Homo sapiens: one gene and its partner. Changing the gene in region 1 together with any one later gene gives a genetic interaction. Each region holds a gene or a part of one and is shown in the gene's direction. Other genes may lie near its edges.

Region 1 (3,658 bases):
ACTAAAAATACAAAAAATTAGCCAGGCGTTGTGGCGGTCGCCTGTAGTCCCTGCTATTTGGGAGGCCGAGGCAAGAGAACGGCATGAACCTGGGAGGTGGAGCTTGCAGCGAGCTGAGATCTTGCCACTGCACTCCAGCCTGGGCGACAGTGCGAGACTCTGTCTCAAAAATAAATAAATAAATAAATAATAAATAAAATGTTTGGAATGTTGGCTTCATCCCTGGGATGCAAGGCTGGTTCAACATACGCAAATCAAGAAACATAATTCATCACATAAACAGAACTAAAGACAAAAACCACATGATTATCTCAATAGATACAGAAAAGGCCTTCAATAAAATTCAACGTTGCTTCATGTTAAAAACTCTCAATAAACTAGGTATTGATGGAAAATATCTCAAAATAATAACCATTTATGACAAACCCACAGCCATTATCATACTGAATGGGCAAAAGCTGGAAGCATTCCCCTTGAAAACTGGCACAAGACAGGGATGCCGTCTCACCACTCCTATTTAACATAGTATTGGAAGTTCTGGCCAAGAAAATCAGGCAAGAGAAACAAATAAGGGGTATTCAAATAGGAAAAGAGGAAGTAAAACTGTGTTTGCAGATGACATGATACTATATCTAGAAAACCCCATTATCTCCACCCAAAAGTTCCTTAAGCTGATAAGCAACTTCAGCAAAGTCTCAGGATACAAAATCAATGTGCAGAAATCACAAGCATTCTATACACCAACAATACACAAGCAGAGAGCCAAATCATGAATGAACTCCCATTCACAGTTGCTAGAAAGAGAATAAAATACCTAGGAATACAGCTAATAAGATGTGAAGGATCTCTTCAAGGAGAACTACAAACCACTGCTCAAGGAAATAAGAGAGGACACAAATGAAAAAACATTCCATTCTCGTGGATAGGAAGAATCAATATCATGAAAATGGCCATACTACCCAAAGTAATTTATAGGTTCATTGCTATTCCCATTAAACTACTATTGACATTCTTCACAGAATTAGAAAAAAACTACTTTAAAATTCAAATGGAACCAAAAAAGAGCCCGTATAACCAAGACAACAATAAGCAAAAAGAACAAAGCTGGAAGCATCACACTACCCAACTTCAAAGTATACTGCAAGGCTACAGTAGCCAAAATGGCATGGTACTGGTACAAAAACAGACACATAGACCAATGGAACAGAATAGAGACCAGAGAAAGAAGACCACACATCTACAGCCATCTGATCATCGACAAACCTGACAAAAACAAGCAATGGGGAAAAGATTCCCTATTTAATAAATGGTGCTGGGAAAACTGGCTAGCCATATGCAGAAAATTGAAACTGACCCCTTCCTTACACCTTATACAAAAATTAACTCAAGATTAAAGACTTAATGTAAAACCTAAAACTATAAAAACCCTAGAAGAAAATCTATTTAATACCATTCAAGACATAGGCACAAGCAAAGGTTTCATGACAAAAACATCAAAAGCAATTGCAACAAAAGCAAAAATTACAAATGGGATCTAATTAAACTAAAGAGCTCCTGCACAGCAAAAGAAACTATCATTAGAGTGAACAGGCAACCTACAGAATGGGAGAACATTTTTGCAATCTATCCATCTGACAAAGGTCTAATATCCAGAACCTACAAGGAACTTAAAACAAATTTACAAGGAAAAAAACAACCCCATCAAAAAGTGGACAAAGGACATGAACAGACACTTCTCAAAAGAAGACATTTATGTGGCCAACAAACATATAAAAAAAAGCTCAACCTTACTGATCATTAGAGAAATGCAAAGGAGAACCACAATGAGATACCATCTCATGCCGGTCAGAATGGTGATTATTAAAAAGTCAAAAAACAACAGATGCTGGCGAGGCTGTGGAGAAGTAGGAACACTTTTACATTGTTGGTGGGAATGTAAATTAGTTCAACCGTTGTGGAAGTGTGTGTGGCTATTCCTCAAAGATCTAGAACTAGAAATACTATTTGTCCCAGCAATCCCATTACTGGGTATATACCCAAAGGAATATAAACCATTTTATTATAAAGATACATGCACATTTTTGTTCATTGCAGCACTCTTCACAATAGCAAAGACACAATAGCAAATGCCCATCAAAGATAGACTGGATAAAGAAAATGTGGTACATATACACCATGGAATACTGTGCAGTGCAGCCATTACAGCTTTTGGTGATACAGTGAATCAGATTTTTCATTAATTCTTTTAATTGGTTATTACTGAACGTGAAAAAGTAATGTTTGTATTGAAATCTTGAGTCTGGCCATGTTTCTATTTTAAATTCATAAAGAATTCTAACAAGAGGAATTCCAAGAATGTCATAAATGGATGTTTCTCCATGGATGAAGGAACTGTTTTATTCACTTGCTGATAATTCAGCCTAATCCAGTTTGACATCATATAGATAAGTAGTTGAATTATGGATTTAAAATACATATCATTTTCTAACTCCAAAGGTAATACTTATTTAAATGGTTTTGAAAATATAGAAAGGCACAATTTCTTTTTAAATCTGTTATTCTCCACCACCACTCAATCTGTCTATCATCTATCTCTCCATTCATTCTTCCATTTGTTTATATCTGTTAATCTTTGTATGTGTTCATGTATAGCTTTTACATGATTGGAATCATAATGCATATTCCATTTTGAAGTCTGCTTTTTTTTACACAAAAATATGTTGTGAATATTTTCCTATATTATGAAATATCATTAGCTGAGCTTTTAGAATTGACTGCATGTTTTGGTACCATTTAGATATAGTTTAAGATACTTAGAAGTTATGTGGCTTTGCCACTATGGATGAATCTTATTTACTCAATATTAATTACTTACAAATAACCTCACCTAAACACTACTCAGCCATAAAAAGGAATGAATTAATGACATTCACAGCAACCTGGAGACTATTACTCTAAAGGAAGTAACTGAGGAATGGAAAACCAAACATTGTATGTTCTCACTCATAAGTGGGAGATAAGCTATGAGGATGCAAAGGCATAAGAAGGATACAATGGACTTTGGGGACTTAGGGGAAAGGGTGGGAGGGGGGTGAAGGATAAAAGAATACAAATTGGGTTCAGTGTATACTGCTCAGGTGATGGGTGCACCAGAATCTCACAAGTAACCACTTAATTACTTACGCATGTAACCAGATACCACCTGTTCCCCAAACACCTATGGAAATAATTTTGTTTTTTTTTTTAAAAAAGGAATGAGATCATGTCCTTTGCAGGGACATGGATGAAGCTGGAAGCCATTATCCTCAGCAAACTAACAGAGGAGCAGGAAACCAAACACCACATGTTCTCACTTGTAAGCGGAAGCTGAACAATGAGAACACACGGACACAGGGATGAGATCAACACACACTGGGGCCTGATGCAGGGGCCGTAGCGGGGAGAGCATCAGGATAACTAGCTAATGCATGTGGGGCTTAATACCTAGGTGATAGGTTGATAGGTGCAGCAAACCACCATGGGACACGTTTACCTATGTAACAAACCCGCACATCCTGCACTTGTATCCAGAACTTAAAATATTTTAAAAATCTTTAGAGAATACAAAAAAAAAAAAAAAGATTCTTCAATGCATACACAATAAAATTGCAGTTCAGTC
Region 2 (3,658 bases), on another chromosome or scaffold:
CAAGATCGCGCCACTGCGGTTCAGCCTGGGCAACAGAGCGAGACTCAAAAAAAATAGCACAATTCTAACAATATGCCACCATCACTGCTGATGAACTGGATAAGAGGGGACTAGTGTCACGTAAAATTTACCATCTAAAAAACAATTTTAGGCCAGGCGCAGTGGCTCACGCCTGTAATCTCAGCACTTTGGAGGCCGAGGCGGGAGGATCACCTGAGGTCAGGAGTTTGAGACCAGCCTGGCCAACATAGTGAAACCCTGTCTCTACTAAAAATACAAAAATTAGGCCAGGCGGGGTGCCTCACGCATGTAATCCCAGCACTTTGGGAGGCCAAGGCAGGTGGATCACCTGAGGTCAGGAGTTCGAGACCAGCCGGACGAACATGGTGAAACCCCATCTCTATTAAAAATACAAAATTAGCCGGGCATGGTGGTACATGCCTGTAACAGTCCGCTACTTGGGAGGCTGAGGCAGGAGAATCGCTTGAATCCAGGAGGCAGAGGTTGTAGTTAGCCGAGATCCTGCCATTGCACTCCAGCCTGGACAACAAGAGCAAAACTCTGTCTCAAAAAAAAAAACAAAACAAAAATTAGCCGGGCGTGGTGGCATGTGCCTGTAGTTCCAGCTACTCAGGAGGCAGAGGTGAGAGAAACGCTTGAACCTGGGAGGTAGAGGCTGCAGTGAACTGAGATCGCGCCACTGCACTCCAGCTTGGGCAACAGAGTGAGACTCCATCTAAAAATTTAAAAATAAAATAAAAAACATTTTTAAGTATATAATTTAATGGTATTAAATACTTTCATCATGTGCAATCATCAGTCACCATAACTCATCTTGTAAAACTGAAACTCTGTACCCATTAAAACATAACTCTCCATTCCCTCCACCCCCTAGCCCCTGGCAAGGACCACTGTCCTTTCTTTCTCTATAAATTTGAGTAAGTACTTTATCTAAGTGTAATCATACAGTATTTATCCTTTTGTGACTGGCTTATTTCACTTAGCATAATGTCCTCAAGGTTCATCTATGTTGTACCATGTCAGAATTTCTTTCCTTTCACCTGGGCAGCATACCAAGACCCCATCTCTAAAAGAAGTTTAAAAGAATGTTTCAAAGGCCAGGCCCAGTGACTCACGCCTGTAATCCCGTACTTTCTGGGGAGGATCACTTGACACCAGGAGTTCAAGACCAGCCTGGGCAACATGGCAAGACCTCTTCTCTACCAAAAAAAAAAATTAAGAAGACATTAGTTAGGCATTGTGACATGTGCCTGTAATCCCAGCTTCCCAGGAAGCTGAGGCAGGAGAATGGCTTGAGTCCAGTTCGAGGCTGAAGTGAGCCATAGTCATGCCACTGCACTCCATCCTGGGTAACAGAATGAGACCTTATCTCTTAAAAAAAGTATATCTTTCCTTTTTATGGCTGAATGTTATTCCATTGTGTATAAATGCCACATTTTGCTTATCCATTCATCTGTCAGTGGCACTTGAGTTGCTTCCGCACCTCAGCTGTTGTAAACAGTCCTGCTGTGTATATGGCCACATATAAAAGGTCTTTTAACTTTATTAAGCTTTGTTTTCTCATCTGTAAAATGGAAAAGGGCCTGCTCTGCATGGTTGCAGAGATGAGTGAGTGTTAGTGTGCTTGACACTCTTCCTCTGAGGAAATAGCACCCGTGGTTGCCAGTTTGTGGCTACTGGAGCCTCACATGGCATTTGGAGGTGTGGCTCACTACCCCACCCCCGCCTGGGGCTCCAGGCTAACCCAGGCAAAACTGTAGGTGCTCTCTGACCCTCAGTGTGCTCCCTCTCGGCCCACAGCCCCCGGTCCCTGAGAAGCGGCCCCCTGAAATACAGCATTTCCGCATGAGTGATGATGTCCACTCACTGGGAAAGGTGACCTCAGGTCAGTCCCATCCCCCACCCCCGGTGGCTTGATGTGGTCTGTTCTGAAGGTTTCGGTGATAGGCCCCACACCATTCTCTCTCTTCTTCCAGATCTGGCCAAAAGGAGGAAGCTGAACTCAGGAGGTGGCCTGGTAAGCAGCAGAGGCAGAGCCTCTACCCCTCGGGGGCTGCTCTGAGGGAGGGTCAGAGGTGGGGCTGCATCCCATCCTCAGTAGAAATGCGCAGGGTGTCAGTGGCCTCAATTTTTCTGATCTTTTTCTAGTCAGAGGAGTTAGGTTCTGCCCGGCGTTCAGGAGAAGTGACCCTGACGAAAGGGGACCCCGGGTCCCTGGAGGAGTGGGAGACGGTGGTGGGTGATGACTTCAGTCTCTACTATGATTCCTACTCTGTGGATGAGCGCGTGGACTCCGACAGCAAGGTGAGACAGAGCTGGTCTGCCCTCCCCGCCGGTGCTCCCCCAGGGCTGGGGCTCACTGTCCAGTCCTCCTTGTTCCCTGTTTTTCTGCTTTCTGTCCTTTTTATCTTCTGAATATCCACTAAGTCATTGCCCCATGCTGTCTATAACTCCTTTTTTTTGTGGGGGGAGACGGAATCTCATTCTGTCGCCCAGGCTGGAGCGCAATATCACGATCTGGGCTCACTGCAACCTCTGTCTCCAGGGTTAAAGCAATTCTCCTGCCTCAGCCTCCCGAGTAGCTGGGATTACAGGCACCTGCCACCACGCCCGGCTAATTTTTGTATTTTTAGTAGAGACGGGGTTTCCCTGTGTTGGCCAGGCTGGTCTCTAACTCCTGACCTTAGTTGATCCACCCACCTTGGCCTCCCAAAGTGCTGGGATTACAGCTGTGAGCCACCGCGCCCAGCTGTAACTCATTTTCAATGTGTATTCTGCCCGTTTCATCCACAAAGGTGGCCACCACCCTGCACATGGGATTTAGTATTCTTTTTTTTTTAATCAGCTAATGAAATGACCATTTAACAGACATGTACTGTTTAAAAAAAGAAAACAAAAAAAGAAATGACCAGAAAGCACTTTTTTAAAACATACGTTATGCTGTTTATATAAAATTCAAAAGCATTGCATTGTCATTTATTTGCTTATTTCGTTGCTCTTTGTCTGGTTTTATCTTATATGTTTGCCTACACAGTAGAATGTTTAGTCTCTCTGATTTTGCCTTTTATTTAACATTTTATCATGAAAACTTGCAAGCATAATCAAAAGAGTAGAATAGGGAGCCCCCATGTACCCAATACACAGCTCCAGCCATTATCAGTACACAGTCCATCTTGACCCATCTGTACATCTCCCAGCACACACACCTACTAGGTTATTTTAAAGCAAATCCCAGACCTCATATCATTTTACCTAAACATATATCCATATAGATTTGTAAATATAAGGCCTCTTTTTGTCGTTCAACATCATTACACTACTGTTTTCACACCTAAAAAAACTTACCGATTTCTTAATACCATCAAATATCCTGTCAGTCTTCACATTTCCTCAGCTCTCACAAATGGTTTTTGTCAAGATCCAAATGAGGCCCACACCTTGATTTGATTAACATTTGTCTTAGGTCAGCCAGGCACAGTGGCTCACGCCTGTAATCCCAATACTTTGGGAGGCCAAGGCGGGCAGATCACGTGAGGTTGGGAGTTCGAGACCAGCCTGATCAACATGGAGAAACCCCGTCTCTACTGAAAAAAATACAAAATTAGCTGGACGTAGTGGTACGTGCCTGTAATTCCAG

The links.
Region 2: changes in CFLAR (region 1) and EHMT2 together harm fitness less than expected from each alone (positive genetic interaction), as found in Homo sapiens cells (one large-scale study listed by BioGRID).

The regions. Positions count from the first base shown.
Region 1 is NC_000002.12:201,168,076-201,171,733, forward strand, and holds part of CFLAR (CASP8 and FADD-like apoptosis regulator), read left to right. Parts: 3' UTR 1-3,658. UniProt on the Homo sapiens protein: Apoptosis regulator protein which may function as a crucial link between cell survival and cell death pathways in mammalian cells. Acts as an inhibitor of TNFRSF6 mediated apoptosis.
Region 2 is NC_000006.12:31,891,074-31,894,731, reverse strand, and holds part of EHMT2 (histone-lysine N-methyltransferase EHMT2), read left to right. Parts: intron 1-1,069; exon of another isoform or gene 1,070-1,370; intron 1,371-1,821; coding exon 1,822-1,906; intron 1,907-1,997; coding exon 1,998-2,038; intron 2,039-2,169; coding exon 2,170-2,325; intron 2,326-3,658. UniProt on the Homo sapiens protein: Histone methyltransferase that specifically mono- and dimethylates 'Lys-9' of histone H3 (H3K9me1 and H3K9me2, respectively) in euchromatin.